2 linked regions of the Homo sapiens genome follow. The protein of the gene in region 1 interacts with the protein of each later gene in a pairwise test. Each region holds a gene or a part of one and is shown on either strand. Other genes may lie near its edges.

Region 1 (4,868 bases):
AGTAGAGTTCTTTCAGATTTTTGGCACCTTTGGAGTGAATTAAACCCAGATAGTTCATGAGAATATCTTAATTTTCCTCAAAGAATTTTAATTCCAAAAGGATATTGGGGTATAATGTAGCTAACCTATGCATCAGTTTGAAGACAGGAGGATACTGAAATACTTTAAAAAGATGGCAAGTTCCACTAATAAAAATTACTCTGGCTTCCCTGTTTGTCAGTGTGTTGACAATGTGATAATGTGTCAGGTGTCTTATGCGGCAGGCAGATCATTTTAATTCATCATAAAGAAAGTGATGTCTCTTTTCAGTCAGCCATGTGGCCTTTCCTACCACTTTGTGTTCTCTGGATCAAATTTCATTTCAGGATTGCTTACAATTCTCTAATAAAGATATGGCCATGATACAAAAACCTCCCATTTCCCGAATGTTATATCTATTCGGAATCCCTTTTTCCTATTTCATTTTCTTACTACATTGGAATTCTTACGTCTATTTGGCTACAACCATTAGCTCTCCTTTTAGCTACTTCTAAGGGGTCCTTTTCTCTTATTTCTGGAAATTATTTTCCTGCCCAAATGAATTATCCTCCACTTTGTCCCTATTGAACTCAATTTGATTCATATCTTCCCACTTCACTAATTTGTCAAGATGTTTTGAATTTAAATCCTCTTCTACAGTAAGAAAGTCAGTCCACCCAAGTAGATGTCATCAGCACAAGCAGACTTTGTATTAATTCAGGTGATTAATGGAAAAGTGTCTGTTTCATGCCTGGGAGACCTCAATTCGAATGGTCTATTCTCAGTTAATTTTAAAATACTGACAACTACTGAGGTAAAATGTATTACATGAAAGGAAAATGTGATACAAAAAAATTATTTATTTCTGGGATACTCTCTATATATCACGCTAGATTAAGTTAAAATATATCAAATTAATTTTTGTCAGTCTGATCATTCTAAAGCAAGTGTAATCAATTAACTGATGGGTTTTTGGAAATTTTTACTGATTGTTTTTCTGTATTTGTTTCGGATTGAGGCAGGGGAGGAAGGCTGGCAATGTTTCCAAGCATTTCTGCTTAGAATATGAAACAAATGAAAAACAATGTGATAAAGCTATAAGTAGGACTAAGGCACCCCATGCGTGTGCAATCATGCATGATGCAAAATACATTATGTTAATAGCATCCTTTACTTCTTGCATTAGTCCCATTAGAACTGAGGACTCTGATTAGCTTCTTTAGCTTATATTTCACATCAGAGACTCTGCATATTCAGACTATAAAACCACTGTTGGATTAACTTACATATATCAGACATAACTTTAAAAATGTATGACTATTTTATTTTCCTCACTGTGGTGAATACTATTATTTAATACTTTTTTCCTACTTTTATCTGTGGCTTCATAAAACACACAAAAAAATCCATTCACTGTATTCTTCAAATTAGAGAAATAGCTTAATATATGCCCATTCTTAGGCGCCCTTTGATTACACAAGGATTTATTTTTTTCCTGCCATAATAAAAAAATTCAGAAATGAAAAAATGTAAATAATCCACTAATTATAATCATCTGGATTTGCACAAGTGCAGATAGATTTGAGACTTTGTTAATCATTGATATTGAAATCTATAAAAATTAAGAAAATTAATGTAGGGAGACCAAAGTTATTTACAAAGGATCATTTATTAAACACATTTTAAAAACAAAATACAAAGATAGTTGTTCTGCATGAATACATCACATATGAAAAAATAATGTGTTTTTACCGAATTTAATTTGAAGATATTCAGAATTTTGTTTTCTATCAACTTGAGCAACCAGTTTCGCTTTGCACCTTGTCTAACACTGTTGTCAATCAGGAAGAAATGTTTTCTTGTTAATTAAATCATATTCATACAGCTAATATTTTACAGAAATAAAATAAGACAATGTCTGTCATACAAAGCTCTTTCTGCAAGGTAACTGATTTGCCTATGATCCTAATTGTTTTAAGCTATAAGATAGGAAGAATTCAGGAGCTAGGTAAGTTTTATAATAACGTATTAGCAGCAGTTGATAGTAAATGCAACATAAGATTTGTTTTGTCTGTGGTACAAGAATATGTCCTATCAGACTCTACTGTATTTTTCTCTACTTGAACACAGGTAAGCACATACTGATTGTCTCTGGGATGACAAAATGTATAAAAAAGACAAGAAACTGGCTCTGGTTGTCATTGTGAGTGCCTATTTTCATCAGCTAATATGAATGCATTGCTAAATTAGTGAAGACAGGAAAATGACTTAAGGGTAATATATACAGAGTTAAAATACACTTTTTATCCACTTGAGTGAATTCAGGCACTGTGGCTGTTCAGGATAAAATGTTTCATGGTTTATTCTTGATAGCAATTTAATTTTCAGTGCAAGCAAAAGCAAATACCTGCCCACTGTAATACACATGATCTCACACATCTGGAATGTTCAATGCAAGTTCATCCTCGGCATCTTCACTCTGGAGACATCTTGAATAAAAAACCGTTCATAGTTTGCTCTTGATAGCAATTTAATTTTCAGTGCAAGCAAAAGCAAACACATACCTGCTCACTGCCATACGCACGACCAAACACATCTGGAATATTCAAAGCAAGTTCACCTTCTCCATCTTCACTGTGGAAGCTCTTTAATAAGTGGCACTTTGTGTAAACCCTCTATAAATCATGAAAAACAGATTCGAAATGCCTGGATTTAATAATATTAAACATCACTGCCATAGTCATCTCTCTGTGTAAACGATATTTGGGTAAGGCTTGCCATCACAACATTTCTTTCCTGAGAATGGAGCTGGTCCTCTGTTTATATCATAAGTGCGCATGCTCTGAGCTGTGGTCACTGTCGTGACTGTCTTCATTTGCTATAGAGTCCCCTGTTTGCTGGAGGGTGGCTGCACCAATTCCCGACAGCTCTGATGGGAGAAGTGTTCCCTTTTTCACATTCACCAGTTCCTTTTCCCGAGCCGCAGCTCCTTGCTGTCCACCCTTTACCCTCTTCCACTTCATCCGCCTGTTTTGGAACCAGACTTTCACCTTCAACCAAGAAAGGGAACAAACAAACAGAAAAAAAGAGATAATTAAAGTGACATTTTTTTCTCCTTAGTGTCATCAATGAAAAGAAGTTCCTCAAAGGCTTATACAAAGACACCATGAAGGAGTGAATAGAAAAATAAATCCACGTTGAATTTAATCAGGTTACATGTTCATGATAATAATTTTTAAAGTTTCAAAAGGTGCATACAAAGTACTATATTTGTATTTTACAGCATACAATGTAAAATATGGAACTAAACAAAAACTTTGTCATTTAAGGCACTCAAAGCACTTGCGTCTATAAAGAGCTTCTGTGAATTGGAGCTAACATAATATTTGTGTTGGTCAAAGCCCCCCACTCCTAAGTTCTTCTTTGATTTGACATCCAGCTGTCATTTCCTGAACCAATTTAAAACATGCTCCTGCAGCTACTGATTAAGCGGCATCTGAAAGGCCATACTCTGCCATCAGAAACTACTGCTGCTTTCACAAATCTTTATTTGACCATTCCACCTCACACTGAGCCTATCTTCTTTTGAACTCTTCTTTTTATTTTCTACCTTAATTCATTTATTTTACTTTGCAAATATTTGATCTAGTGATTTCTTTAAAATATGGTCACAATAAAAAATTCTCAACATTTGTTAAATGCTAACACCAAGATTATATACTACATCATTCACATCAGCTTTGTACAGGTATTTTCTTTTTAAAAGCTTCATTGAATTTGCCTAATACATTTAAATAAATATATATATTTAAATAACATATATGTATTAAAAACAAAAAAAACAGCAAACAGACATTAAAGGTCTATACATTATCAGAACTAGAATATAATTGGCATTATTGCATCTTGTTTAGGAGGAAATCTGTTTCTTTCACATTGCATTTCTCATAATTATAGCTTCTAGCAAGCAAAGTGTTCTTTTTACATTGTATTTCTCTGTCTACCCCACCTAAAAGTACCACAAGCCTGAATTTTGTGTGTCACCTCCAAGTCTTTCTTAAAAAAGAAAACAAATTTTTTTCATAACAAGTAATATTAAAACTATACTCTTTAATTTTATTTGTTTGTTAGGTTTATCAATGGAATGTTCCTAAGTGTAGGCTTTTTGCCACATCTTTGTTGATTCAAAAGACTCTATTTATTTATTTTTTATCATTGTATAATATTCCAAATTCTGTCAATATAGCACCATTTTTCTGTTCTACCATCCATGGATATTTGAATTCTTTTTTTTCTATATGTAATGCTGCTATAGACATTCTTGCATTTGTGTCCTGATAAGCATATCATGGGAACTTCCCTGGAGACTGCAGTTATATGGCTGCTGCTATCTATCTTCTCTCAATGTATGCTGTTTCTTTTTCCTTTTCTTAGAGTGTCTTTTGATGATTAGAAACTCTTAATATTAATTAATATGTTTAAATTTATCTATTGTTTCTTTTATGACTAGTGTTTTGTGTTTTCTTTTTCTAAAAAAATCTATTTTCTGAAGCCAGTAAGATATTCTATTGTGTCTTCTTCTAAGAGTTTTAAAGGTTGCCTTTTCCAACACAGTGGGACCCTGTCTCTACAAATAAATAGATAAAATAAAATAAAATAAAATAAAATAAAATAAAATAAAATAAAATAAAATAAAATAAAATTAGGTGGGTGGGATGGCATAGTGCCTGTAGTCCCAGCTTCTCAGGAGGCTAGGGTTGGAGGATTGCTTGAGCCCAAGTGGTTGAGGTTGCAGTCAGTGGTTGTTGCACCACTGCACTCCAGCCTGGGCAACAGAGCAAGATCCTGTC
Region 2 (9,309 bases), on another chromosome or scaffold:
CAGATTTCTGTGCTACAAAGGATGTTCCATTTACTGAGAACTACTCAAATTATAAAATCCCAAATTACTTCTCACCTGTTAGGCATCATTGTCAAAGATAGTGTCCAGGGTTTCATACATGTTATTTTTAAAAATTAATTGGATTGGCTGGGCGTGATGGCTCATACCTGTAATCCCGGCACTTTGGGAGGCTGAGGTGGGCAGATCACGAGGTCAGGAGTTCGAGACCAACCTGGCCAACATGGTGAAACTCTGTCTCTACTAAAGATACAAAATATTAGCTGGGCGTGGCAGCACGTGCCTGTAATCCCAGCTTCACAAGGGGCTAAGCCAGGAGAATCGCTTGAACCCGGGAGGTCGAGGTTGCAGTGAGCAGAGAGCACGCCATTGCACTCCAGCCTGGGCGACAGAGCAAGACACTGTCTTAAAAAAAGAAAAAAAGAAAAAAGAAAAGAAAATTAATTGGATTTATCTTATTGGGTATTTTTTTTTCTCACTACAAAATGATAGATTAGATGCTTGTTGCAAGAAAAATTCAAACCAGGTGCAGTGGCTCATGCCTGTAATCTCAGGGCTTTGGGGGGCCGAGGAGGGAGGATCACTTGAGCCCAGGAGGTCAAGATCAGCCCAGGCAACATAGTGAGACCCCGTCTCTACACAAATAATAAAATTAGCTGACATGATGGTGCACACCTATCGTCACAGCTACTTGGGAGGCTGAGGCAGGAGGATCGCTCGAGCCCAGGAATTCAAGGCTGCAGTGAGCTATGATGATGACACGGCACTCCAGTCTGGGTGGCAGAGCAAGACTCTGTCTCAAAAAAAAAAAAAAAAAAAAAAAGGCCAGGCGCAGTAGCTCACGCTTGTAATCCCAGCACTTTGGGAGGCTGAGGCAGGCAGATCATGAGGTCAGGAGATCAAGACCATCCTGGTTAACACGGTGAAACCCCGTCTCTACTAAAAATACAAAAAATTAACTGGGCGTGGTGGTGGGCGCCTGTAGTTCCAGCTACTTGGGAGGCTGAGGCAGGAGAATGGCATGAACCCGGGAGGCGGATCTTGCAGTGAGCCGAGATCGCACCACTGCACTCCAGCCTGGGCGACAGAGCGAGACTCCATCTCAAAAACAAAAAAAAGGAAGAAGAATAAGAGGAGGAGGAGGAGGAAGAGAAGGAGGAGGAGGGAGGAGGAGGAAGGAGGAGGAGGAAGGAGAAGGACAAAGAGAAGAAGAAGACAGCAACAGAAAATGAGAGACATGATTAATCCAGCATGCTTAATAGTTTAGTAGTAGATTTTTCCATGGTGTCCTTCCCAAAAGGTTTCACCAACGGATGCTGTCTCTAATGATTTGGGAGATTTCTCATTTCCCTACAGCTTCTCCAGCTCTGAGCATTCCCGATCAATTTTTCATTTGACTCAACTGGAGTGGGAAATTGACTAGATTGTGAAAAGCATGCACATGCTCCAATGGTCTCCATCTCCTCCACAATATTTTTTTTCTTTTCTTTTTTTTTTTTTTTTTGAGATGGAGTTTTGCTCTTGTTGCCCAGGCTGGAGTACAATGGCACGATCTCGGCTCACCGCAACCTCCGCCTCCTGGGTTCAAGCAATTCTCCTGCCTCAGCCTCCCGAGTAGCTAGGATTACAGGCATGCGCCACCATGCCTGGCTAATTTTGTATTTTTAGTAGAGACAGGGTTTCTCCATGTTGGTCAGGCTGGTCTGGAACTCCCGACCTCAGGTGATCCCCACCTTGGGCTCTCAGCCTCCCAAGGTGCTGGGATTACAGGCGTGAGCCACCGTGCCCAGCAATTTTTTTTTTTTTTTGAGATGGAGTCTCACTCTATTGCCCAGGCTGGAGTGTAGTTGTGCGATCTCGGCTCACGGCAACCTCTGCCTCCCGGGTTCAAGTGATTCCCCCACCTCAGCCTCCCGAGTAGCTGGGACTACAGGCACACACCACCATGCCTGGCTATTTTTTGTATTTTTAGTAGACAGGATTTTGCCATGTTGGCCAGGCTGGTTTCGAACTCTTGGCCTCAAGTGATCTGCCCTCCTGGGCCTCCCAAAGTGCTGGGATTACAGGTGTGAGCCACTGCACCCGGCCTTCCTCCATAATTGAACACAGTCGCCCAGCTTAAGCCTCCAAGGGTCCAGTTCCAGGTCAAGATTTGCTGCTTTTTTTGTTTTGTTTTGTTTTGTTTCGTTTTGGTTTTGAGACAGAGTCTTGCTCTGTCACCCAGGCTGGAGTGCAGTGGCATAATCTTGGCTCACTGCAACCTCTGCCTCCTGGGTTCAAGTGATTTTCCTGCCTCAGCCTCCCAAATAGCTGGGATTACAGGTACCCGCCACCACGCCCAGCTAATTTTTGTATTTTTAGTAGAGATGAGGTTTCCATGTTAGCCAGGCTGGTCTCGAATTCCTGACCTCAGGTGATCCACCTACTTTGGTCTCGTAAAGTGCTGGGGTTACAAGAGTGAGCCACCGCGCCTGGCTGATGGGGTCTCACTATGTTGCCCAGCATGGCCTCGAAATCCTGGCCTCAAGTGATCCTCCTGCCTTGGCTTCCCAAGTGCCGAGATTACAGGCATGAGCCACTGTGCCCAGTCAATGAGCTTTTAATGTACATAATGTGGCTGAAGTGATGTGGGACTTTCAGGCTAGATCATAAAAAGATACAACTTCCACCTGGCTCTCAGCTCTTGGAAGGTGCTCGGGAGGCCAGCTCCCATGCTGGGAGTACACTCATGCCACTCAAGTATACTGGGAGGAATCGAGGCATCCCGCCAATCATAGCACCCATCTGCATGCCCTGAGAGTGAGCCACCTTGGAAGCAGATTCGCCAGCCCCCGTCAAACCTTCAGATGACTGAAGCCCTGACCAACTCCTTAACTGCAACCTTCTGAGAGGCCCTGAGCCAGAACAGCCCAGCAGCAAAGCCATTTCTCAAGTCCTAAGCTACAAAGACCACATGAAATCATAAGGATGGACCAGGTGCAGTGACTCACACCTGAAATCCCAGCATTTTGGGAGGCCAAGGCAACAGGATCACTTAAGCCCAGGGGTTCAAGACCAGCCTGGGCAACATAGTGAGACCCCCCCGCCCCCAGCTCTACAAAAAAGTATAAAAATTAGCCGGGAGTGGTGGCACATGCATGTAGTCCCAACTACTCGGGAGGCTGAGGCAGGAGAATTGCCTGAACCCGGGAGGCAGAGGTTGCAGCGAGCCGAGATCGTGCCACTGCACTGCAACCTGGGTGACAGAGCAAGACTCTGTCTCAAAACAAAAACAAAACCCAAACAAAACAACAACAAAATAACAAACAAATTAGCCGGATGTGGTGGCACATACCTGCAGTCCCAGCTACTCAGAAGGCCAAGGCCGGAGGATTGCTTGAGCTCAGGAGGTTGAGGCTGCAGCGGAGCTATGATTGTGCCACTGCACGCCAGCCTGGGTGACAGAGTGAGACCCCGTCTCTTAAAACAAATTTAAAAAAATGCTAGCTCTACGAGGGCAGGGATCTTTGTTTTGTTTGCTGTCATGTCCACAGTGCCTGGAACAGCATTGGGAACAGAGTACACGCTCTATGTGGTTGCCACGGTGATTATAACCTAACAGACCTTTGGTCTGCATATTCTGCGCTAAAAAAAAAAATCAAAAAACAAAAAACCTACCAGATCTGATTTATGTCAGGGCTAGCTCAGACTCTTACCTGTTTCCTGCCCACTCAGTGCCCATCTCGGCCAGTGAATGGGACATAGCTATGACCTCCCTCTGCACTGGGCAAATAGATTAGTAACTGGCAACTATGACAGGCGATCCACTCCAAACCTCGCCACTTCCCTCAGGATAAAATCCCAGGTCTTCTGTGCAGTTTCCAGCCCCCATCCTGCCTAGGATTCCACCATTCAGCCACAAGGAATCATGAACTGCTTGTAGTTTGCAAATACAGTAGTCTCCAGAGTGGAGTACATACACCCTATAAACAAAGCTTTGGGGTTCAACTGGAAAAACTTTAGAATATCTAGATTTGGGGGGTTTTATTGTTTGTTTTTTAGTCTTTTAAAAATAACTTTTTCCTTTTCTTTTTTCTTTTTTTAAAGACAAGGTCTTGCTATGTTGCCCAGGCTGGTTTTGAACTCCTGACCTCCAGTGATTCTCCCACCTTGACCTCCCAAAGTGCTAGCATTACAGGTGTGAACCATCATGCCCAGCTCCATTTATCTATCAATATTTTATATAACAGTTAACAGAATATATTGATATAATTGTATTTGTATATAATTTATAAATAATATCCATCTTTGAGGCCAGGAGTTTGAGACCAGCCTGGGCAACATAGTGAGACCCCGTCTCTACAAAAAAAATAGAAAATTAACCAGGCATAGTGGCATATGCCAGTAGTCCCAGCTACTTAGCAGGCTGAGGCAGGAGGATCGTTTGAGCCCAGGAGTTAGAGGCTGCAGTGAGCCACCATCAAACCACTGCACTCCAGCCTGGGCAACAGAGCAAGATCTTGTCTCAAAAAATAAATAAATGAATAAATATCCATCTGGGGGTGTAACTTTAACACTTTTACCTATAGGGGTGTGCAATGGAGAAAAAAATTTGGAGTCGTTGAACACAATGCTATTTTGCTCCTCAGAGAGTATCCGGCAGTCTCTGGAGACGTTTTTGGTAGTCACAACAGGGAGAGTAGGGAACCACTGGCATCTAGTGGGTGGAGGCCAGGGATGGTGTTAAATGTCCCCCAATACACAGGACAGTCCCCCACACAAAGAACTAGGCCGCCCAAAGTGTCAAGAGTGCTGGGCTTGAGAAGCCATTGCCCAAAAACCCCAGACTTAGTCTTGCTTTGGGGGCTCTGCACGGCTGCCTCATCTCCCCACTCTATTCCTCCCCTAGCTAAGACCTCCAATTTCAGTGACTCTACAAAGCATCCCCTCCTCCAATGAAGTTGCCATCTCTGTGTCCCCAGGCTGGGCCAGAGCCCCACCACCTAAGGGCTCCCTGATGTGCCCTGTACTGGGTTAGAATTGTCCGTCCCACGGGGTTCTTAACCATTGCAGATTCCCTGGATCCCTGAGACAGCCGGATTCTACCGGGCTACTAGAGACCAAGAATCTGTATTTTTCTCAAGCACCGCTCCCCCCAACCACACACACACTGCCTGCCCCTATCAAGGGCACACAGCAGGTGGCCCAGTGACTAGTTGAACGCCTACTGCAAGCCAGGCGCTATTACGCGATCCACTCGGGAATCTTGGCACATACTCCACTCCATGGTGTAGACACCAGGATTCTCCCCATTTCACAGAGGGGTAAACTGAGGTTGAGAGAGGTGACCGTAGCTAGGACAGAGACTCAGGGCAGGAAAAGGGCCCAGGTCCTCATGAGCGCCAGATTCCCGGGGAAGGAGGGAGAACAGAGAGGAGGGTGATGAACTGGGGGAGCGCGCGCTGGGTGGGGGGGCGCGGGGCCTCGCCGCGGCCTTCTGATGCGGCCCCGCCCCCACGAGGGACGTGAAGACGCGGACCCCGCGCAGCGTGGGGACATGTGACCGACTGCAGAGGCCGCGCCGCCTCCCCCGTCCGAGGTCTGCGCGCTCCGCCGCAGGGTGCAGACCCGGGGCGCCCGCCTGGGTTTGGGGCGCAAGAGCAGAGGCGGAGCCAGGGCGGAGCCAGCGCGCCGGGTCCCCCCTGAATCGAAAGCGAAACAGGGGCCGGGGAGGAAGGGCGGAGCCGGCCCCGAGGCACCGCCCCCTGCCCTGCGCGGCTGCTGGACCGACGGGCGCACCCAGGTAGGGGGGCGGCTGAGCCGCGCAGTGCGGACCCTCGCGGGGAACTGCGCCGCCGCCACCATGTCTCAGGAAGGTGTGGAGGTAAGCGATGGCTACGGCTGGGCCGGGGTCAGCCGCGACAGACCCCGAGGAGCGGCCGGGAGGCGCGGAGGGGGCTTCGCAGTTCCTGGGGACCCCCATCCTAGAACCCCAGATCCTTACCCCTGCCTGGCGCTCGCCCCCCTTGAAAAGGAAAGTGACTCCCACGTTTCCCCAGAGCGAAATGAGGCCTCCCCGAGGAAAAGCGGGGGCTGCAGGGTCAAAGGTCAGAGGCCAGAGATAACCTGGCCGCCCCCCCACACCTTAGGCTGGGACGCTCGCCCCAGTCCGCGCCTTCCCCCAACGCCCTGTGGGGACTTTGGCTTTTTCCAGGAAATGCCGTAAAGGGATGAAAGGCGGGGGGGGGGCGGCGGAGGCCAAAACCAAGGGTCAAGTTCGGGCCGGGAGAACGGTGCCTAGAGATGGGGGAGGGATGATCCCGTTTCCCCTTCCCCCACCGGAACCCCCCTGTCTCCATCCCAGCTGGAGAAGAGCGTCCGGCGCCTCCGGGAGAAGTTTCATGGGAAGGTATCCTCCAAGAAGGCGGGGGCTCTGATGAGGAAATTCGGCAGCGACCACACGGGAGTGGGGCGCTCCATCGTGTACGGTGAGGCTGCAGGGGTCCCGGGCCTGGTGCGGGGACCGCGCGTGGGAGCGCCGAGGGGGCGTGGTCTAGGGAGAGGCGTTGAGATCACCTCCCCCGGAGGTCCCAGCCTTGGGGAGGCTCTGCGTCGCGGCTCTGGGTGGCCTGGAACTCCCACAGACCCTTCAAGGGCCCTTCCCTTATATGCACTCTCCCCCGCAGGGGTAAAGCAAAAAGATGGCCAAGAACTAAGTAACGATCTGGATGCCCAGGTAACCTATCCCCTCCCCTCGCAAAGGACCGGGTCACGGGAGGGAGAGCAAGAGGGGGGACCCGACCCGTTCATGGTGACTGACCCCCCTCTGAAACAGGAGGGACCAGGCATTGTCGGTCCATAACTCATCACCCAATCTCACTTTTTCACCTCTCCATCATTTGTCCGGCCAGGGAGCCTGCAAACAGTAGGCGCTCATTATGTGCTGATTGTATTCAATGGGGGAGAGAGCCATGAAACTAAGCAATGAAAGGAGCCAGGATTATTGCCATCATAGCGGGGGCGCAGAGGTCAGAGAAGGCTTACTGGAGGAGGAGGTACCAAGTCTTAAAGGATGGGGAGGAGTGAGCCCTGGGAGGGGAAAGGGAAAGAAAGGCAGGGGTCTTGGGGTGGGGGAGGGAATGGCATAAGCAAAGGCTGGGAGGTGGGGAAGGGTTGTTAGTGGCAGTCTCTAGAAAGGCTAGGATGAGCAGAGGATTGGGGAGGAGAGAGAGGCAGGGGAATGGAACCCTTGTGTTGAATGAATGAATGAATGAATGAATGAATGAATGAATGAATGGCTTTGAAGCACAGGTGCATCATGGCTACTTTGCTTCTTTGACAGCTTTGGTGATGGGAACGCTGTGGATTTAGCCTGCCTGAAAGGCTTAGTGTAGGGCTGTTAAAGAGTATAATAGGCCAGGCGCGGTGGCTCACGCCTGCAATCCCAACATTTTGGGAGGCCGAGGCGGGCGGATCACCTGAGGTCGGGAGTTTGAGACCAGCCTGACCAACATGGAGAAACCCGTCTCTACTAAAAAATACAAAATTAGCTGGGCATGGTGGCGCATGCCTGTAATCCCAGCTACTCGGGAGGCTGAGGCAGGAGAATCACTTGAACCCAGGAGGCGGAGGTTGCAGTGAGCTGAGATCACACCATTGCACTCCAGCCTGGGCAACAAGAGCGAAACTCTGTCTCAAAAAAAAAAAAAAAAAAAAAATGCCGGGCGCGGTGGCTCACGCCTGTAATCCCAGCACTTTGGGAGGCCAAGGCGGGCGGATCATGAGGTCAGGAGATCGAGACCATCCTGGCTAACATGGTGAAACCCCATCTATACTAAAAATACGAAAAAAAAAATTAGCCAGTTGTGCTGGCAGGCCCCTGTAGTCCCAGCTACTCAGGAGGCTGAGGCAGGAGAATGGCGTGAACCCGGGAGGCGGAGCTTGCAGTGAGCCGAGATCGCACCACTGCACTCCAGCCTGGGCAACAGAGCGATTCTCCGTCTCAAACAAACAAAAACAAACAAAACCAGAGTATAACAAAACATGTATCATAGTCTACATTTATACATATAAAAGTATGATAAAAATGATAGCAGAGGGGCCAGGTGTGGTGGCTCACGCCTGTAATTCCAGCACTTTGGGAGGTTGAGGCGGGCAGATCACTTGAGGTCAGGAGTTCGAGATTAGCCTGGCCAACACGGTGAAACCCCTTCTCTATTAAAAATACAAAAAATTAGCTGGGCGTGGCAGTGCATGCTTGTAATCCCAGCTACTTGGCAGGCTAAGGCAGAAGAATCACTTGAACCTGGGAGGCAGAGGTTGCAGTCAGCCAAGATTGTGCCATTGCACTCTAGCCTGGGAGACAAGAGCGAAACTCCGTCTCAAAAATATAATAATAATAATAATAATAATAATAATAATAATAATATTAGCAGAGAGTAGCATTCATTGAGTACTTCCCACATGGCAAGATTCCAGGAATTTATTTATTTCATCACTGCAGTGACCCCAGGAGACAGGTCCTATTATTTATCCCCATTTCACAGACAAAGAAACTGAGGCCGAAGTCACTTGCCAGCAAGCAGGGGCAGCTGCGATTTGAACCCTGGCCACCTGGAGTCAGAGCCTGGGCTCTAACATGCCTGTCAGTGGGAACCCAGGGGGCAGGGAGTGGCTTGCCCAAGTCCCCACAGCTGGAAGTGATACAGCTGGGATTTGAACCCACATCTCTCTCCCACTTAGCCGAGCACAACGTGGCCTCAAAGGGGCGATATGTCACAACATCAACAAGCATGTGGCATTTGCAGGCAGGAAGTGAGTATGGGGGTCAGGCTAGCCTCACTCAGGCAAGCCCTCCCCTAAGCCTCAGTTTCCCCATCTGAGCAATAAGGTAACAGGTGTGCCCACCTCTCAGGGCTGCTATGAGGACAACTGAGGCCACACACCTGGCTCTCAATAAGTGAGTGGTGCTCTGTGAGCTTCTGGCGAGTTAGGGGCACCCTACTCATTGCGGCCGGGGGCCTCCCCCAGCAAACGGGTGGAAAGAGGCCTGAGCCCCATCCCCAGTTTCTGCCCCTGCTATCTCCACCCAGGATCCACCAGAAGATATGAAGCAGGACCGGGACATTCAGGTGAGTTGGTGGCTAGGGCTTGGGATGGGGGAGTTGGGAGGGGGACATCTGCAGGCACAGAAGGATGTCCATTAGGGCAGGAGGGGAGATATTCACTGGGGCAGGAAGAGGACTCGTCTGTAGGGAGAGGAGGGCTGATGCTTATGTTGGTGCAGAAGGGGTGACACCCCCCCACCTCATC

What was found. Proteins that work in one complex are often made in the same cells at the same time.
Region 2: the proteins of MEOX2 (region 1) and SHFL interact in binary tests that used the Homo sapiens proteins (3 or more experiments, as listed by UniProt).

What each region holds. Positions count from the first base shown.
Region 1 is NC_000007.14:15,609,544-15,614,411, forward strand, and holds the end of MEOX2 (homeobox protein MOX-2), read right to left. Parts: intron 3,069-4,868; coding exon 2,844-3,068; 3' UTR 1,669-2,843; downstream 1-1,668. UniProt on the Homo sapiens protein: Mesodermal transcription factor that plays a key role in somitogenesis and somitogenesis and limb muscle differentiation. Required during limb development for normal appendicular muscle formation and for the normal regulation of myogenic genes.
Region 2 is NC_000019.10:10,080,568-10,089,876, forward strand, and holds the start of SHFL (shiftless antiviral inhibitor of ribosomal frameshifting protein), read left to right. Parts: upstream 1-5,749; 5' UTR 5,750-5,860; coding exon 5,861-5,881; intron 5,882-6,361; coding exon 6,362-6,485; intron 6,486-6,683; coding exon 6,684-6,733; intron 6,734-8,543; coding exon of another isoform or gene 8,544-8,811; intron 8,812-8,911; coding exon of another isoform or gene 8,912-8,922; exon of another isoform or gene 8,923-9,083; intron 9,084-9,089; coding exon 9,090-9,128; intron 9,129-9,309.